2 separate regions of the Homo sapiens genome follow, and region 1 is linked to region 2. Evidence: fine-mapped expression QTL. A gene starts in region 2. The other region holds a variant in brackets. All regions are shown on one strand. Distances are between the middles of the regions. Region 1 overlaps DDB1 (damage specific DNA binding protein 1). Region 2 holds the start of VWCE (von Willebrand factor C and EGF domains).

Region 1 (8,000 bases), 22 kb after region 2:
TTTTTTTTTTTGAGACAGAGTCTCAGCTCTGTTATTCAGGCTGGAGTGCAGCGGTGAAATCTAAGCTCACTGCAACCTCCACCTCCCAGTTTCTTTTTTTTTAAGACAGTTTTTTTTCTTGTCACCAGGCTGGAGCGCAATGGTGGGATCTTGGCTCACTGAAAACTCTGCCTCCTGGGTTCAAGTGATTCTCCTGCCTCAGCCTCCTGAGTAGCTGGGATTACAGGTGCCTGCCACCACACCCGGCTAACTTTTGTATTTTTAGTAGAGATGGGGTTTCGCCATGTCGGCCAGACTGGTCTCGAGCTCCTGACCTCCGGTGATCCACCCACCTCAGCCTCCCAAAGAGCTAGGATTACAGGCATGAGCCACTGCACCCAGCAACCTTCCAATTTCAAGGGAATCTCCTGCCTCAGCCTCCCAAGTAGCTGGGATTACAGGCACACACCACCATACCTGGCTAATTTTTGTATTTTTATTAGAGACAAGGTTTCACCATGTTGGCCAGGCTGGTCTCAAACTCCTGACTTCAAATGATCCTCCTGCCTCGGCCTCCCAAAGTGCCGGGACTACAGGTGTGAGCCACCATGCCCAGCCAGAGAATCTGCATTTCTAACAAGTTCCCAAGTAATGCTGTAGCTGCTGGTTGGGGACACCCTTTGAGAATTCCTGCTCTAGAGGGACACAAAATGATCTCTAAATTAGGGATTATGAAACAGTCATCTGAATCACCTGATAAGTTTTCTGAAAATACAGATTCCAGAGCTCAACCTCAGACCCACTGAGGATTCCAAAAATCCTGTAGTTTTAAAAAACTTCCCAAGTGTTTCTATTGGGTAGCCAGTTTTGAGAACCTCTGCACTATACTTCCCATCTCAGTTATGATTTTGACACCGGAAAAAGGCTTTGAGGTAAGGGTTTGAGGAAAACATCATGACCCCCTCAATCAATAGCTCTCATTAAATAAGGAAAAAGAGACTCACCTGTCAGGATAGCCATCTGAATTGAGGGGACACATGTAGTTCACTTCCTTGAGGTTGACATTTGAGAAGACCAATTTGTGGTTGCTGCTATAGATGACAGTGGGGCGGTCAGAACAAGCAAAGACGTTGGTGGTAGAAAGAGAACGAAAAGTCCTCAATACGGTGGGCTGGGTGCCCAAAGTCACCTTCTTACGGTCGCTCAACAGACCTACAGAGAGAATGACATCAGGAGAAAGGAAGAAAGAAAACAGGACAAAAAGCTGGCCTGTGAAAGTTCAAAAGCAGAACCCTGGGACTAAGAATTCTGTGTAATTCTAATACTCTATTTTTGAAAGAGTCCCTCACTCAAAATACTACTCTCACCTGTCTCAATGTTGAGCCCAAAGTAGAAAAGCGCTCCATCTCCCAAGGCACAAAGGAGGTAATGGCTACTCTCAAAGGTGGTCATCAGGATGGAGCGAGGAATGATCTCTGTGAGAAAGGGGGACATTATGTTCTTGTTCCACATTTTGACTCTGTCCCAACCCAGGTCCCTAAATGACACATACCTCCACCCAGCATCTCCTTGTGCAGTAGTTCAAAAGAGGGCAACTTCAAGATACGAGCCGAGATGTCCGTCCAGAGGCCAATGGCACAAAGAGGGGACAGTCCATTGCTGTCTCCTAATGGGGTGATGTCCAAGCAAGCCACTTCATGTTCCATCTCTGTGTGGCTGAACAAAGAAGAATATGGCAGAGGAAGGAATCCAAGGCTCAAAGAAGTCCTAGAGAAAAGAGGAGGAAAGCGAGCAGACAGAAAAACACACACACCTGATCTGCCGGAGCTCCTGAGGATGGATCTGCAGATAGTAGAGGGCCCTGCCTACAGCCACCACCACCTGGCTGCTATTGCAGGAGGCCACACTGATGTTCTTGGCCTGAGGCTCCTTCCATTCACTGACCAGAGCTTTGGGTTCTTGAGAGACCAACCTCACCGATGCTGAAGTGATCTAGATAAACAGCAGATGAACAAATGTCTCCAAGCATCTGCCAGGGTCCACACAGGAGTGGAAAGGTGGTAAATGCAGCCCTAATAGAGCCCTACGAATAAGCTACATGAGGCTTCTATTTCTTATTCCCCAAAGTCCTGCTAATGATTACAATAGATGTCATTTTTGCATGAATGCCTGAAGGAGGCCAGCTTAAAAGTAGCTTACAGCTTACAAACCTACAGCTGGTGGGGAAAAGGCCTATTTCATTCTAATTGAGACTTACTTGGGTAATACAAACTGCATCCTGTGGGAAGATATGAATAGAGTAAGACCCTGTGACCACCAGTTTTTTGGCTTTTTTTTTTTTTTTTTTTTTTTTGGGACAGAGTCTCTCTCTGTTGCCCAGGCTGGAGTGCAGTGGTGCAATCTCAGCTCACCACAACCTACGCCTCCCAGGTTCAAGCCATTCTCCTGCCTCAGCCTCCCAAGTAGCTGCGATTACAGGCGCATGCCACCATGCCTGGTTAACTTTTGTTTTTTGAGTAGAGATGGGGTTTCACCATGTTGGCCAGGCTGATCTTGAACTCCTGACCTCATGATCCACCTGCCTTGGCCTCCCAAAGTGCTGGGATTACAGGCGTGAGCCACCATGTTGACTGTGACCACCAGTCTTAGCAGTTTTTCTCAACCCCCAAATCAGACCTCTAAAATATCTAAGTTCTTTACTGTGTATGAGCCATTTAAATTATTTAAAGTTCCTTAGTAAAGATTACAAAATTGTATAGAAATATATTGTATAAATTTATCACTGAAATAAAACAGGAAGTAGGTTGGTGACACTGTTATCTATTCATTCATCTTACCTAGCACAATTGAGTTTATATATAAGGATGAAAGCTCTTTAATAATAAATAGGTGAGCTGGTGCCAGTCTTCAGGCCAATAGTTAGATAACACTGACAAAGCAATGACTCAGTATCTGGGCACGTCCCACACTTGGTCTGCAAACTGACAGAACTTTCCCTCCGGTTTTACCAATCTACCACTGCCAGGTGGCTAAAAGGAAAACCAGGTGGATAAAAAGACAGAGACAGTTCATTAATCCTTAGGCACTCCAGTGCCCTACCCACCAAAGGCAAGACAGACTCTGGCCACAGAGTGAAGAACAGCTCAGAAGGTAAGGAGAGAGTGCTAAAAGCTGAAGGATGTCAGGGTCACTCCAAACTTCAAAAAATTGCTGAGGGGTGGAAGGGTGTCAGAAATGAGGCTCTCGTGGATAACAATATGCCAGAAGGCTATCTGCCCCCGTATTGCAGATAGATTGAAAGTAAGGATCAGAATAGGGTAAGCTTCGGTTATAATTAGTATGTGGAAAGGGCTGCCAAGAGTCATATTGGATGGTAGCATCATGATTTTTTCTTTTTTTGTGCATTTTGGCATTTTCTAATTTTATAAATAAGGATGTATCACTAGTTTAACAAAGGGAAAAAATTTGAGTGTCTCGGAAGATATAATTAGTGCTAAAATAGGAT[C/T]CGAAACTATATTTTTATGTTTATATATATAATGACCCGAGTCTATAAAAGAAAATGTAAATAAATACACAGACATTTGCAGAAGAAAAATAAAGCTAAAAGGAGCAACTCTAAGGTTAAGAGTTGTGATCTCTGAGTAGTGGATTATCTGTAATTTTTTCCCTAGAATTTTTACATTATTTTTGGAGCCATAAAAATTGGTTGTTTTAAAATCCAGTGGTGCTCTGTACTGCATCTAGGTCAATTCAAGTATATGGTAACACCTGCCCCTTTCTCAGTTATCACCTGGATAAGCTGCTGATGAGCCACGTTGCCACAGAAGAAAGTCTGCTGATCATCCACGAAACCCATCAGTTCGGTTTCTTCTACCTCCTCTCCATTTAACATGAGAACTCTGCAGCAGAATGGAGGGCCTGGGTCAGCCTGGGACCAGCTTCCCCACCTCACAACCTTCTCACCAGCACCTACAGCTGGCACTAGACCCATCCTTACCTTGTCTGGCCCACAAAAGAGAGCACCAAAGTGTCATCAGTCTCACGATTAGGGTCAGACCGCAGTGGCCATAATCCTGGAACAAGGACCAAGGATTCAGATGCATAGGACAGACCAACACTTAGCATGCATATCTACGGACAGGGCAGGCCAGGGGCAGTGGCTCATGCCTATAATCTCAACACTTGGGAAGGCAGAGGCAGGAGGACTGCTTGGAACCAGGAGTTCTAGACCAGCCTGGGCAAAATGGAGAGACCTTGTCCCTGCTAAAAATACAAAAGAACTTGCTAGGTGTGGTGGCACAAAACTATAGTCCCAGCTACATGGGAGGCTGAGGTGGGGGGATTGCTTAAGATTAGGAGAAAGAGGCTGCAGCTATGATCATGTCATTGCACTCCAGCCTGGGTGACACAGCAAGATCCTGTCTCAAAAAAAAAAAAAAAAAAAAAGGATAGATATATATATATATATATATATATATATATATATATATATATATATATATATAGACATGGCAGCCTGACACCACTGGAAGGGCTGGAACATGGAGTCCTGAGCTGGAACCCCCTCTCTGCTCCTTCTTGGTTTTAAGGCTCTAAAAAGTTAAATAGTTTTGTTTTGTTTGTTTGCTTGTTTTTTTTGAGACGGAGTCTCGCTCTGTCACCAGGCTGGAGTGCAGTGGCCCGATCTCAGCTCACTGCAAGCTCCACCTCCCGGGTTCACACCATTCTCCTGCCTCAGCCTCCCGAGTAGCTGGGAAGGCAGGTGCCCGCCACCACACCTGGCTAATTTTTTGTATTTTTAGTAGAGACAGGGTTTCACCATGTTAGCCAGGATGGTCTCGATCTCCTGACCTCGTGATCCGCCACCTTGGCCTCCCAAAGTGCTGGGATTACAGGCGTGAGCCACCACGCCGGGCCAAAAGTTAGATAATTTTAAAGCTGTTTTGAGCCTATTTTAAATTTGGGATTGGATATACATTTCCATGACCCAAAGTCTAAATTTATTTATTTATTTATTTACTTATTTATTTGAGACGGAGTCTTGCTCTGTCACCCAGACTGGGGTGCAATGGCACGATCTCGGCTCACTACAACCTCCGCCTCCCGGGTTCAAGCGATTCTCCTGCCTCAGCCTCCTGAGTAGCTGGGACTACAGGTGCGTGTCACCACGCCTGGCTAATTTTTTCTATTTTTAGTAGAGACAGGATTTCACCGTGTTAGCCAGGATGGTCTCGATCTCCTGACCTCATGATCTGCCCACTCGGTCTCCCAAAGTACTGGGATTACAGGTGTGAGCCACTGTACCCAGCCTAAATTTATTTTTTAAAAGTACACAGAAAAGTCTCATTCCCATACCTCCCTCCAACCCATCCCCCAAACAAGTAATCAATAAAGGCATCTTGTTTAGCCTTCTGGTAAAGAGATGGGGTGTGGGAGGATCTTGCTATGTTGCTCCAGTCTGGCCTCGATCTCCTGGGCTCAAGTGATCCTCCCACCTCAGCCTCCTGAACAGTAAGGACTACAGGCCCACTATGCAACACTAAGCTTAATTTTTTTTACTTTAAGGAAATAGAGTATTACAAACAAATGCAAATATAAAATAGTCTATCATGCACTATTTGGCACCTTGTTCTTTCATTGAACAATATATGCTTGAAGCCCTTATCAGAACACAGTATTTAATTGTGTAAATCATTTATCTATAATTATTAAATTATGCAGATTAACAAATCCCTTCTCATTATATTTATTCAGTATTTTGCTATAACATACAATGCCACAAGAAATAAGCTTGTATTTTTATGTCACTTTATACATATAAAGGTCAGGTAGAGGCTCAGAACTGGGACTACTAAGTAAATCGCTAACTGCTGTCTTTGATATTGCCCAATTCCCTTCTATAGAGGATGCACAAGCATGTTTATTTTCTCACAGCCCGACCAACATAATGTGTGGTCAAACTTCTGGATTTTGGTCATCTAGTAGAGTACTGCTGTTTGGTGTTAATGTGCATTTCTCAGGACTGTTGCCTGTCCATTCATGTCCTTTGCTAGTTTGGGGACAGAAAATTTAGTGATCTTTCTATAAATATGTTATAAATTAGGAAGACTGGGCCTTTTGTCTATAAGATGAACTACAGAATATTTTTATCTGGTTTGTCATTTCTTCTGACTTACCTAATAGTGTTTTGTTTTGCTTTTGCTATGAAGTGTTTTATTTTTATATAGTTGGAATTTATCAATCTTTCTTTTTGGCTTCTGTACTTTGAGTCATAGTTATGGCTTCATTTTTTTACATTAAGTTTTTCAACCATTTAGATTCTAGCCAAGTGTACATTTGGCAGGCAGTATGAACCCAAACTTGTCTTTTCCCAAATGACTATCAATTATCCCAAAAACACCATTTATTAGGTCCCAACTTTAGGCTAGGCTCAGTGGCTCATGCCTGTGATTACAGCACTTCAGAAGGCCAAGGCGGGAGGACCGCTTGAGCCTAGGAGTTTGAGACCAGCCTGGGCAACATAGGGAGACCCTGTCTCTACCTCTACCAAACACAAACAAAATTAGCCAGGCGTGGTGGCGCATGGTTGGAGTCCCAGCTACTGGGAGGCTGACATAGAGAAGATCTCTTGAACCCAGGATATTGAGGCTATGGTAAGCCGTGATCATGCCACTGTACCCCAGCCTGGGTGACAGAGTGAGACCCTATCTCAAAAAATGAATACAAATAAAAATTTAAAAAGTCCCAACTTTACTCACTGAACTGAGAAGCCACCACTATCATACACTGAATTTCCACATGTAATTATGTCATTTCTGGACTTCTGAATCTGCCCATTAGACTCTGCCTATTCATCAGCAATACTACACTTCTAATTATAGAGGCTTAACAGTATGCTTCAGTATCTGGTAGGGCTAACATGTCTCACTGCTTTCTTTTTTTTTCTTTTTTTTTTTGAGATGGAGTCTTGCTGTGACGCCAGGCTGGAGTGCAGTGGCACGATCTCGGCTCACTGCAACCTCCGCCTCCTGGGTTCAAGTGATTCCCCTGCCTCAGCCTCCCGAGTAGCTGGGACTACAGGCACGCGCCACCACCCCCGGCTAATTTTTTGTATTTTAGTAGAGATGGGGTTTCACCATGCTGGCCAGGATGATCTCGATCTCCTGACCTTGTGATCTGCCCGCCTCGGCCTCCCAAAGTGCTGGGATTACAGGCATGAGGCATTGCGCCCGGCCTCTCATTGCTCTTTTTAAAGTTTTCCTGGTTATGCCTGCTTCTTCCTTTTTCCATTTGGACTTGTCTAAGTCAAGGAAACATTGTATACATATTCAGGTACATTAAATATAAAGAGAGAACAGCTTTATAATACTGATTTGCAGTACTTGGTGTGTCTTTTTCGTTTGATCAACTTGTTCTTTTCCTCCTTCAGGAGTATCTTTAAGTTTTCCTTGTATAGGTTTTGCACAATTTTGTTAAATGTACTCCTTGGTACTTAATCATTTTCTTGTTATGGTAAATTGCCCCCTTTCCTCTACTATGCTTTCTAATTGACTGTGTTTACATGAAAGCTATTAATTTCAGTACATTACTTTTACATCCTGCTATCTTAGTGAATTTGTATTGTCTATAGTAGTTTTTTAGTTGATTATCTTGGGTTTGTAGTTATATGATCTCTTCCTTTGCAATTTCATATACTTCTCTTTTCTTTTTTTCTTTTTTTTTTTGAGATGGAGTCTCACTATGTGGCCCAGGCTGTAGTGCAGTGGCGCAGTCTCAGCTCACTGCAACCTCCGCCTCCCAGGTTCAAGTGCCTCTCCCGTCTCAGCCTCCCGAGTAGCTGGGATTACAGGCACCCACACCATGCCTGGCTAATTTTTTGTATTTTTAGTAGAGACAGGGTTTCACCATGTTGGCCAGGCTGGTCTCGAACTCCTGGCCTCAGGTAATCCACCCACCTCAGCCTCCCAAAGTGCTGGGATTACAGGTGTCAGGCAACATGCCTGGCCATACTTCTATTTCTT
Region 2 (11,700 bases):
GCTTCATGCCATCCCTTCCCTGCCAAAGATCCGCAGCAGCTTCTGAGGACCTACGGGCTCAGCTCAGTCTACTCAATCTGCACTCACTGTGTAGTGAGCCTCGCCACTGTGGCCCCCAAGCCCATGGGACACCCCCACTCTCCTTATCCCCTACTTAGCCTTCTACCCAGCAGCTACCCACTCTTCCCAACAGCTGGACCGTCAAGACCATGCTCAACACCGCTAAGAAGCCCACTCTGACTAACCCCATTCCACTGGGATGTCTCGTGGCTACAGTCAGTGCCACCCTGTCCTGCAAGTGCTTTGACATTGTTCTCTGGCTTTTCCTTGGTTCCGTTTGCCTCTGCAATGAGAAATACGTGCAGAAAATGTCCCAAGGTGAAAGGCATTCAGGAGCAGATCAATTGCTTCCATTGGTTTTCCTATCTGGAGGAGATGCTGCAACAAGCAATGAGCTCCAAGACCCCTTTATTGAGACCCTTGGACCCAACAGCGTCCTTCTGGGAAATAATCAGAGAAGCTGACAGGAAGCCTCTTTATGGCGCGTTTTTTTTTTTTTTTTTGAGACGGAATCTCGCTCTGTCACTCAGGCTGGAGTGCAGTGGCGCGAACTTGGCTCACTGCAACCTCCGCCTCCCGGGTTCAAGCAATTCTTCTGCCTCAGCCTCCTGAGTAGCTGGGATTACAGGCACCCGCCACCACACCCACCTAATTTTTGTATTTTTAGTAGAGACGGGGTTTCACCATGTTGGTCATGGCTGGTCTCGAACCCCTGACCTCGTGATCCACCCACCTCGGCCTCCCAAAGTACTGAGATTACAGCGGTGAGCCACCGTGCCCGGCCCTATGGCAGCATTATTTATACTGGTGAAACACTGCAAACCTCTTAAATAAGGGACAACAGACAAATAGTTATTTCAATTACAGCAACCACATATGTAACTGCTAAAAAAAAATTTTTTTTCTTTTTGTTTTTTTGAGACAGTCTTGCTCTGTCGCTAGGCTGGAGTGCAGTGGTGTGATCTCGGCTCACTGCAACCTCCACCTGCTGGGTTCATGCAATTCTCCTGCCTCGGCCTCCTGAGTAGCCGGGATTACAGGCATGTACCACTACACCAGCTAGTTTTTGTGTTTTTAGTAGAGACAGGGTTTCACCATGTTGGCCAGGCTGGTCTTGAACTCCTGACCTCAAGTGATCCACCCGCCTCGGCCTCCCAAAGTGCTGGGATTACAGGCGTGAGCCACCAAGCCTAGCGAAAAAAAAAATTATGTTGCAAGGAATTGTTAGTGATGCCTACAACATAAAGTTAGATGGGAAAAATAATAAAAGCTACAGATAAGATATAATCCCAGTTTTATAAAGCATACATATATGCTGCATGCTTAACATACATACACACACATACACACACTCACAAACACAGACACACCCAGGGAAAAGGGCAGGAAAAAAAACTTCATTTTAGTAACAAATATCTCCGGGTGGGGACTTCCAGAGAATGCTTATTTTCATCTTTCTCCTCTTACTTTCCAAATGTTCTACAATGAACTATCTCTTGCTTTTCTATTCAGGGGGAGAAATATTACTTTTACGAAGTTAAAACTCCAAAAAGGCTTTTGTCGCTCTGGAAAGATTGACAAGAAACTGGTCACAGTGACTGTTTCTGGGGAAGGTAACAGATTTTGTCCGTAGAAATGTTTTAAAAATCACAAGCAAATAATACATTCACAAACTAATTATTGAGTTTAGCGTCCCTCATCTTTTAAATGTCATTTTCCCAAGGAGCCTCCCCTGGCCAACCCTCCCAACTCTGGGTTCCATGCCCCTCTGTGGGCCCTGGCACCTTGCCCTTCCCAGTGAAGGTCCCCATGACAATGGAGCTGTTCTTGTCCTGTTACTTGTCTTCCTTCCTCATATTCAGAAACTCCCTAATGGGGCTGGGTGCGGTGGCTCACGCCTGTAATCCTAACACTTTGGGAGTCCGAGGTGGGTGGATCACCTGAGGTCAGGAGTTCGAGACCACCCTGGCCAACATGGCAAAACCCTGTCTCTACTAAAAATACAAAAATTAGCTGGGTGTGGTGGCACCCGCCTGTAATCCCAGCTACTGAGGAGGCTGAGGCAGGAGAATCATTTGAACCCAGGAGGTGGAGGCTGCAGTGAGCTGAGACCATGCTACTTCACTCCAGCCTGGGCAAAAGAGTGAAACTTCGTCTCAAAAAAAAAAAAAAAAAAAACTCCCTAACAGGGACCAACTGTGGCTCCCATAACCCCAGTCCCTAGCTCAGTTCCTGCCCCTAAGAAGTGCTCAATAAATAATTGTAAAATAACAGAAGTGACACATTTCTTTTGTTCTCATGTCTCTCTGCCCACTCTCAAACATCAGAGCCTATCTTGGCTCAGCTTAGCCTTGCAATACACTGGAGACCATCCTGGCAGGAGGGGGAGGAGATATAATTCCCGCTGTCCCCCTCCCCCTCCCCCACCACTCCCAGGCGTCTCACCTGTACACCTGATGCCAACAGCTGTCTCCGTCATCGAGAAGCCCACGGGGCACACTCGGGCCACCTCCTGACAGCCTCCATGGTTGCAGGTAAGGTCACAGCCGTACTCCCCACATGGTCCATGGGTTTCTAGAGCAGGCATCACACCAGTGAGCATGCACCCCGTGGCAGTCCCAACCATCCCCACTTCACCAGGGTCCTCCTGAATTCTGTTGGGAGGGTAGCTCTGAAGGCAAACAGGCCTGGGTTTAAATCCAGCTCTGCCATTTACCAGCTGTGTGACCCCGGGCAAGACAATAACTTCTGTGTCTCAGTTTCTTCATCTATAAAATGGGCACAAAATGTCTACCTAATGGAGTTGTCTGAAGCTGAGACACCAGGACACATCTCAAGTGCCCACTGCCCAGGACATAACCTCAATGCTCATTCATCTGTTCCCATCAGCCCCTTCCCATCCCCAGTTACCTGGGCAGGTGGCCCCTTGCTCTCCATCCTGGCAGGAGCAGACATTGGGAGCGATGCAGATGCCACTCCCACAGCCGAAGGAGCAGAGGGCTGAGAGGAGAAGTGCAGGTGAGACACGAGGAACTGGGGCCTCCCGTCTGCCCCTCGGACCAGGGACTGAGGGCTGGCAACACACACTGCTGGAGGAGAAGACTTGGGGCACAGGGACAAGCACTTACGCAGGGTGCAGTGCCCACCACCCATAGAGGGCGCCCAGCCAGGGCAGCAGCCACTCCCAAACCCAGAGAGGCAGACGTGGGGGCCCAGTCGGCGTCTGCAAGAGAAGAGAGAGCACTTTCCTCATTCTATACTGGGGGAGACATTGGTCAACAGGAAAGTCTCCCAGCCAGTGTGTAAGTGAATCAACAAACAATTCTCAAGAACTGTCTGGAGGGGCAATGGGAAGTTTCCAAAGAAAAATGACCCAAACAGTCTTCTCCTGGAGGCAAGACAGAGACAAAAGTGTGAGACAATAGATACTGGCCTCCTACAGATATCTGCCACGTGAACACACAGCAGAGTGGCCAGGAGAGGGGCCTCAGAGTTGAAGAAAGGCTGTGCAATAGATGAGGAGCCCCAGGGGTGGCTGCCTCAGGACCTTTGCACTTGCAGTTCCTGCTATAAGAAAGGTTCTTATGGCTGGGTGTGGTGGCTCACGCCTGTAATCCCAGCACTTTGGGAAGCCGAAGCAGGCTGATCATTTTGAGCCCAGGAGTTTGAGACCAGCCTGGGCAACATGGTGAAACCTCGTTTCTACTAAAAACACAAAAACTAGCTGGGCATGGTGACACACACCTGTAGGGTCAGCTACTCGGGAGGCTGAGGTGGGAGAATGGCTTGAGCCTGTGAGGCAGAGGTTGCAGCGAGCCAAGTTGGCGCCACTGCCCTTCAGCCTAAGTGACAGAGCCAGACCGTCTCAAAACAAAAAAAAAAAAAAGAGAGAGAGAAAGATTCTTCCTCAGACACACACTGGGCTTCCTCTCTCCCTTCACCCAGATCTCTGCCCATGGCACCTTCTCAGAGAGGCCTTCCTTGTCCACCCTTACCTTGCTTTATTCTCCACAACATTTACTTCCTGTGACATTAGATTTTAATTTATTAATTCATTGTCTCCCCTACAACTCCCTGATGACAAGGGTTTCTTATCTATTTACCCCAGCACGTACAGGAGTGCCTGGCATGTAGTAGGTGCTCAATAAATGGCTGTTGAGGGAAAGGTTGAGAAGGGCAATGGCATAGGTGACATCTCTTGGGTGGGTGTGGGGTCATGAATGAGCTGCCCAAAACTGGAGGCAGTAGGGGTCTGTTCAAGCAGGAATGAGGTCCAGAAAGGGCAGGAAGCCAGATGCATCCAACTGGTGCTGGGTGCTGAGTAAGGCGTGACCATACAGCCATAAACAAACTACTGCCCCCACCTTCAAGGAAAGTAGGGCAGACCAGGAGCTAGGTGATAACAGCATAGAGTGACAAATGCCACAGTGGGACAGACTGTGGAGCCCTGAGGAGGGTCAGGGGGGGTTCCTGGAAGGGCAGCATCTAGGCTGAGGTGAGAGAGAAAACTTTGGGAGGCCAAGGCAGGCAGATAACTTGAGGTCAGGAGTTTGAGACCAGCCTGGCCAACATGGCAAAACCCTGTCTCCACTAAAAAAAAAATACAGGCCGGGCGCGGTGGCTCACGCTTGTAATCCCAGCACTTTGGGAGGCCAAGGCGGGCGGATCACCCGAGGTCAGGAGTTTGAGACCAGCCTGACCAACATGGAGAAACCCCGACTCTACTAAAAATGCAAAATTAGCCGGGCATGGTGGCGCATGCCTGTAATCCCAGCTACTTGGGAGGGTGAGGTAGGAGAATTGCTTGAACCTGGGAGGCGGAGGTTGCGGTGAGCTGAGATCACGCCACTGCACTCCAGCCTGGGCAACAAGAGCAAAACTCCATCTCAAAAAAAAAAAAAAAAAAAAAAAAAATTAGCCAGGTGTGGTGGCATGTGCCTGTTGTCCCAGCTGCTCGAGAGGCTGAGGCATGAGAATCGCTTGAACCCAGAAGGCAGAGGCTGCAGTGAGCCGAGATCGCACCACTGCACTCCAGCCTGGGTGACAGAATAAGATTCTGTCTCAAAAAAAAAAAAAAAAAAAGTAGGGCAGCCAGCAAAAGAAGAGGAAGGGAGAGGGTGTTCTAGCAGGGGAAACAGCACAACTGCAGGCCTGGAGGGGGACAGAGAGGACAACTGCAACCAGCTCCAGTCATGGACTGGACAGAGGGTGATGAAATCCAGCCTGGTTTGAGCTTCCAACCCCACCGCAACAGAAAAGGGACAAGAAACCCCTTCCCAATGGTGTTCCACCAATGTTCAGAGCGGAGGGAAGATGATTCTGCGAGGCAGGCACTTTGTAAAGCACCCACTCTGCGCTGGGCACTGGGGACATGGGACAAGGCAAACTTAGCGTGTTCTTGGGGAGAAAAATCTGTGCCAAAATGTGACAAGTATTCCGGAAAGGGAAGCTCAGGGTGCAATGGCAGCACACAAAAGTCTGAGGAAAGCTGTCCCTGGGGCCTTTTTCCCTCTCTGAGGTCATCACAGAAGAAAGGGGGGGCCCTCCTGCTGGCGGGAGCTGGCAGTGAAGTCTCATCCACCCCCTTGCTGGAGTGATTATGGCAGCAGCCTGAGAAGGAGGGGACCGGGCGAATGAGCGGAGCCTTGGGACTCTCAGAAACGGACAGGCAGTGCCACCAAGGCGGCAGATAAAAGGGTGCCCAGGGAGGCTGATGGAGTCGAACTCTCAGGTGGGCAGGGACCGAGCACCCGCCAGAGCGCCCTAAGGAGCCTCCTAGGGCTGGTGACAGAGGGACAGGTGGTGGGAGCCTGTGGAACGCCGGGGAGTCGGGGCAGGTTCTGAGCAGGAACTGGCGGTGGCTGTGGAACACACGTGTGAGCTACAAGCCTGGCCGGGCCGCCCCCGCTGCGCGCCCCCCGGAGGACGTGGCCGCGGGCCAGGCCGCCTGCTGACACAGTGTTCCCTAGCTCCGAGCATCACGCACACACGCGCACGGCCCCACCGCGGCCCGGGGGAAAGCACGTGCGGAGGGCGGCATCCATCGCGAAAGACAGCGGAGGGGCATGCACCCCACCCCCACGCGCGCACACGCACGGACAGAAAACGAAAAGTGACCCAGAGACCCCGGCTGTTCCAAGGTCCATGAAGTTCGTAGGGCCAAGACCCAGGGAAAGCCCCGCGCGGCAGGGGAGGCCAGGCGCTGCCCGGGCAGAGCCACGGGCACGCTGGGGGGTGAGCCAGCCAGTCCGGAGACCAGATGGCACGTCCTGGGCTCCCCTCTCCAGAGGTCCGCGCTCCAGGGCACATTAGGAGTCACCCAACGCCTGGACCTCCGATCTCCCAGGTCCCAGTCTGGACAGCCCCAGCCAGGGGGGCACGATGAGCACCCGCCTAGAGGCACAAGTTGCTGACTCTTTGTGCCGTCCCCGAGCTGTGCCCGCGCTGATAGCACCCCAGAGGAAGCCCCGACACGCGGCTGCCTGCGGCTCCTGAGCGCCCCTCCGCGCCTCTCGACTGCACGCCGGTAGCGCTCTCCCGGGCGGGGGAGCGGGGAGGAGCTCCGGGCGCTTACCTCTCGGCCGCGAAGTGCCCGGGCGGCTTCCTCCCGGTGTAGCCTCGGGCTGGTGCCCCCGGCAGCAGGAGCGCGACACAGGCGGCCCGAAGGAGCAGTCCGGCCCACATGACCGGCGGCGGCGGGTCCCCCGGGCTGGGCTCGGCTCCTGCGCCGCGCGCGGGAGAGGGGGCTGCCGGCCCTCGCCCCTCCTCCTGGCGCCGTGGGGAGCGAACCAGCGATCCCCGAAATGGCACGCAGAGCTGAGCAGGGGGGCTTGGGACGCCGAGAGGAGGGGCCGAGGGCCGCGAGGGGACGCGGCGGACGATTGTGGGGAGGGTCTCTGGCACCTCGAAGCGAAACACACAAAGGCAACGCCGCCCGCCTGCTGATGCCTCTCCGAGAGGCGCGGAGCCCGGGGCGGGGGCAAAGATCAGGGACCCCTGGGGGCGGGGTTTCGCCCTCGGCCCACACCCCCTGCCCCGGTTTGGGAGTCGGCTTCCTGCGAAGCGCTGACTGAAGGCGTCAGACCGAGGCCCCGGGAGGAAACAGACTTCGGGAACAAGGCTAGCACCAGAGGCTGCGCGCCCCGGGCATGGCCCCTGTCGGTGGGACCCGAGACGCCTTGTTGTGACGAGGTGGGAACCGTGGAAATTCGAACCCACGACGCCAGGTCGCTGTGCCGCTGAGCAGTTCTAGGCCTGCCCCCAGCCTGCCAGAAGGTCTGCACCCTAACGCCGGAGTGCGTTGATCTGTGGGTCCAACCGCTCCCTGGCCTGGGGCCCTAGCCACTTTTGAAGCCCCGGGCTCCTCTGGGCACCCAGGGGGCAGATGGCCGGCCTCCCGACTGCTGGTGGCAAGACCAGGAAGCAGCTGGCGCCGTTGGCAGTGGAGAGGCAGCAGCAGATCTGGAAGGCTCCTCTTTGCCCCTTCTGCAGCTGCCCCAGGCCGTGGTCAGAGACTGGGGGGCTGCCTAGGGATTTAGGCAAAGAAGGGGTGCGGAAATCAAAATCATCCCGCTGGGAGAAAGCTGAAAGGATAACTGATTTTACCTTCTGCTCCATGCAGTAATCTTTCCCTTAGCCACCCACAATTAGTCAAGATTTTGCTTAAATACTTCCAGGGGTAAGAAACTCACTATCTGTTAAGAAGCGGCCCAATCCAGTTTTGAACCACATTTGTTTTAAAGTGTCTTCACTTCCCAGTTGAACAATCCCTGTTCCTTTGGCCTTCCTGCTACCTCTGCCTTTACTGAGGTGCTTAACATTGGTGGCCACAAATGGACATGGCGTACCAGCGGTGGCCTGGACTCGTGCCTCCTTCCTGCAGACACCATACTTTTACTAATGCACCCTAATATTACGTTTTTGGCAACCCCATGATGTTAATTATGACACATTGAGTTTGCAGTAAAGAAAAACCACAGGTGGCCGGGCGCGGTGGCTCACACCTGTAATCCCAGCACTTTGGGAGGCTGAGGTGGGCGGATCACCTGAGGTCAGGAGTTCCAGAACCAGCCTAGCCAATATGGTGACGCCCCATCTCTACTAAAAATACAAAAATTAGCTGGGCATGGTGGCGGGCGCCTGTATTCCCAGCTACTCAGGTTGAGGCAGGAGAATCACTTGAACCCAGGAGGCAGAGGTTGCAGTGAGCCAAGATTGCACCATTGCACTCCAGCCTGGGCGACAGAGCAAGGCTCCATCTCAAAAAAAAAAAAGAACGAAAAAAAGCAGGCATTTTTTGTTGTGCTTTTATGTTATTTAAACACAAGCTGCCAAGTGGTCTCCCTACCTGAAGCTGTGTGGCCCCATTTTTTTTTTTTTTTTTTTAGATGGAGTCTTTCTCTGTCGCCCAGGCTGGAATGCAGTGGCACGATTTCGGCTCACTGCAACCTCCATCTCCCGGGTTCAAGCAATTCCCCTTCCTCAGCCTCCCGAGTAGCTGGGACTACAGGCGCACATCACCATGCCCAGGTAATTTTTGTATTTTTAGTAGGGACGGGGTTTCACCATGTTGACCAGGCTGGTCTTGAACTCCTGACCTCAAATGATCCACCCACGTCAGCCTCCCAAAGTGCTGGGATTACAGGCGTGAGCCACCGCACCCGGCTTGTGGCTACATTTTTGCAGACATTCACCTTGAGGCCGTATCTCACCTTGTTTGTTTTGGCCCATTTTCTTGTCAACATATTCTCAACAAGTAGGAGCCAAAATATTCTGTAACATAAGATGAATGCAATTTCCGTCATATCCATTCTGAGTCCCAAGGACCCTCGGAATCCTAAGGCATCTTTCTCTCTTGCCCCAAACATCTGAAGGTTACACTTTCCCCCTCCACTGCCCCTAAACCACCAATGTCAAATAGGTGCTCTTTTTTCCTGGCCCTAGGGGAGCTACCCAAATTTTCAACAGGCATACACAGAACAAGTGTCCACATGGCTTCCATATTTCATGCCATCTTCTCACACTCCAGCACACCTCAGCTACCTCTGTTCTTAGCTACATTATGGAGCCCCACCTGCTCCACCTCACCCTGTAAAACTCACTCCCTGGCAGAGTTTGCTCCATATTGGCCAATGAGCAGCTGGAATAGCTGAGATGCAACTTTGTGCTTGAAGAAAACCCACATCTACCCTAAGGAATTTAGGATACTTAGTACACAGTAAATTCCTGTTAGTGAATCTCCAAACAACGTCCAAACTGCCCCTGGCATTTCTTTCATTTCCCCATAAAGTTTCTGTGACCTTATGGCATTCACCTTGCTCCTATCAACATTTTCCCCTTTAGTTTGGTTTTTGTTTTTCTTGTCTTTTTGTTTGACCCTGAGGTTTCTCAGTTTGGACACAGAGTCTCTAACTTACTATTGTTCAAGACTAGTTCGGGCATATCCCTTGATTGCAGTTCCTGTGTTTCTTCCCACTTCTGTGGCTTGTGGTTTCTCAGTAACAAAAGGGACCCTCCACCGAGGGTGGAGGATCCAAGTTGTTGTTGGCTGCAGAATGACAGCCTCTGGCTTGTGATCCCTTCAAATGGTCATGTGATGAGTCAGTGTTTCTATTATTCTCCCAAAGGTCCCTTCGTGCAGAGGCCTGGAGTGATGCTAGTTCATCAGCGCCTACATGGAATGGAGCTGTTCCAGTTGGCTACAGCCACGCTCCAAAGACAACCTTTCACCCCTAGAGAGGTGATTAATGGTGTTTAAGAGGGGATGTGGGAGTATGGCAGCAGAACATCAGTTTCCAAAGTTGGAATTCAATCCCGAGTGAATACACCCAAGAGTGTACAAAACAAAAAATCAGCAAAACATAGCAAGGACTCCACAGGCTTCCAAATTCAAGACAAGTCATTGACAACCTTCTTCTCAATAGCAGGTCTCAGCAGCTGCAGGTCAGACCACAAAAGTGCCCCAGAATGATCATCCCACCACATTCTGTCTTTCTGATTATGACACCTTATAGTCAGCGCTCCCATCTAGGATTAAATTTTTAAAATAATCACAATGTGGAGACTGTTGCTTGCCTGCCTCATTAAAGCTGGCCTCTGGCAGGGGGGCAGGCCCTTTCAAATTCAAACTATGACTTCTAGAATTCAAATCACAGTGTTGGGTTTCCAGTTCAACCTGTGGTTTTTGAGAGGCTGATTATTTTTTGTTAAGACCCTTATCCCCCACCCGCAGAACTCTCAGAAGAGTAAGGGGAAAAAAAGGTAATAAAACACAAGGAATTCCTTCAGGGAAGGAAACTTCCTCCAGAAGACCCTCAAACCAGGGATGCTTCTTAGCTCTTTTCTTTTTAAGCTAGAATCTCTCAAAACCACAATTTGAACTTGCAACCACAATTTTCCTGACACTGTATCAAAGGCTGGTCTTAAAGGAGCCACCAATATGCCTAGTATCAACCCTACTCCACCGTGGGGACAGAGCAGCCTTTCTTCCCACCGGATCACTGAGAGAAACGTGGTCCCAGACATTGGCCCACCAAGCTGAAAAGAAGACAGGCTTTGTTTGCCAGACAGAAGAGTGAATCCCATATGTGCCCTACTCCTGCTGTATTCTCAAACCAAAAGCACCAAAGGTTCACTTGATTAGATCAGAGGAAACAAAATGAGGGTCCAAAGGGCATGTGGCAACAAGCAGCTGGGAGGTACATGAGGAGCTACTAGGTGGCCTGGGGGCTAGATGACTGGACACTGCACACAGAGCTGGCTATAAAACCAGGAAAGGCAGTCCAGGCAACCCCCAGGCCCAGCAGGTTACCGACAGAGGCAAGTAAGAATCAAATGGTGTCAAGGACAACCAAAAAGACCAGTGAATTTCTAAGCCCATCATCCTTGGGATCCCATCAAACAATCACGTGATGAAGAAGAGGTATAGATGTCTTCACTTTCACTACTTGAAAAGAGCTGTTCTAACAGCAAGGGCAAGTGAATGCAACAACTGCCATAAAAGGGAGGATACTGCCTAAGTTCGCAGTAAATTAAGAATAGTTAACCTGGAGTCCTGGATAGCTGGGCAGGGTGAATAAAAGCAAAAACAAATGTACCTTTCTTCTTATATTCTACTTTATTTGGTAAAACTCAGAAACTAACAATTCACATCCTCCCACCTTCTTCTTTCCGAAGAAGGCAGTTTGCAGAGACAAAAGGGCTGTGGCGTGGGGATCATCCACCATCTCCAGGTTTTACACCCAGGCTACCCATGGCTTGGCAGTCAGGCCTCTAGGCCTGATGCTCTCAGAGGCAATAGAAGAAAAGTAAAAGGAAGGTCTCACTTCACAGACAATGAAACCCTCCTAACCCTCTTCCCCACTACCCACAACTCCCTACACTGCCAATCTAAATAAAAAGAGGACAATGCATGAGTGTGAGATACACATACACACACACACATACACACACACACACGCACAGCTTCCTTTCAGCCAAAGAACTGCAAAATCCTTCCCCGGAAGGAGGACAACTGGCAACACCAATCAAGGCTTGGTGGTCTAAGGTGATGGCTGGAATCATGTGAGACTGGTAAAAATCCAGGGAGAAAATGTTTCACCTTCAGCTCATTCCCAAGTCTCTATGAAGCCCGCCCCACTT

Evidence for each region.
Region 1: its variant is fine-mapped to the expression of VWCE in whole blood (INTERVAL, PIP 0.97).

The regions. Positions count from the first base shown.
Region 1 is chr11:61,312,516-61,320,515 of GRCh38, forward strand. It overlaps DDB1 (damage specific DNA binding protein 1), which reads right to left. Exons shown (of 27, transcript NM_001923.5): 11 at 3,977-4,052; 12 at 3,770-3,878; 13 at 1,793-1,971; 14 at 1,532-1,695; 15 at 1,347-1,454; 16 at 984-1,191. Among named protein-coding and RNA genes, the nearest start is that of DDB1, 17 kb to the right of the region's middle. The variant C/T (reference allele first, on the strand shown) is at 3,485.
Region 2 is chr11:61,288,294-61,299,993 of GRCh38, forward strand. VWCE (von Willebrand factor C and EGF domains) reads right to left here and starts at 7,023. Exons shown (of 20, transcript NM_152718.2): 1 at 6,635-7,023; 2 at 3,189-3,283; 3 at 2,971-3,060; 4 at 2,506-2,634. The coding sequence starts at 6,744. It overlaps DDB1 (damage specific DNA binding protein 1), which reads right to left. Exons shown (of 27, transcript NM_001923.5): 27 at 11,158-11,700. RefSeq lists silencers at 5,843-6,102, 6,543-6,852, 7,033-7,102 and an enhancer at 6,074-6,776.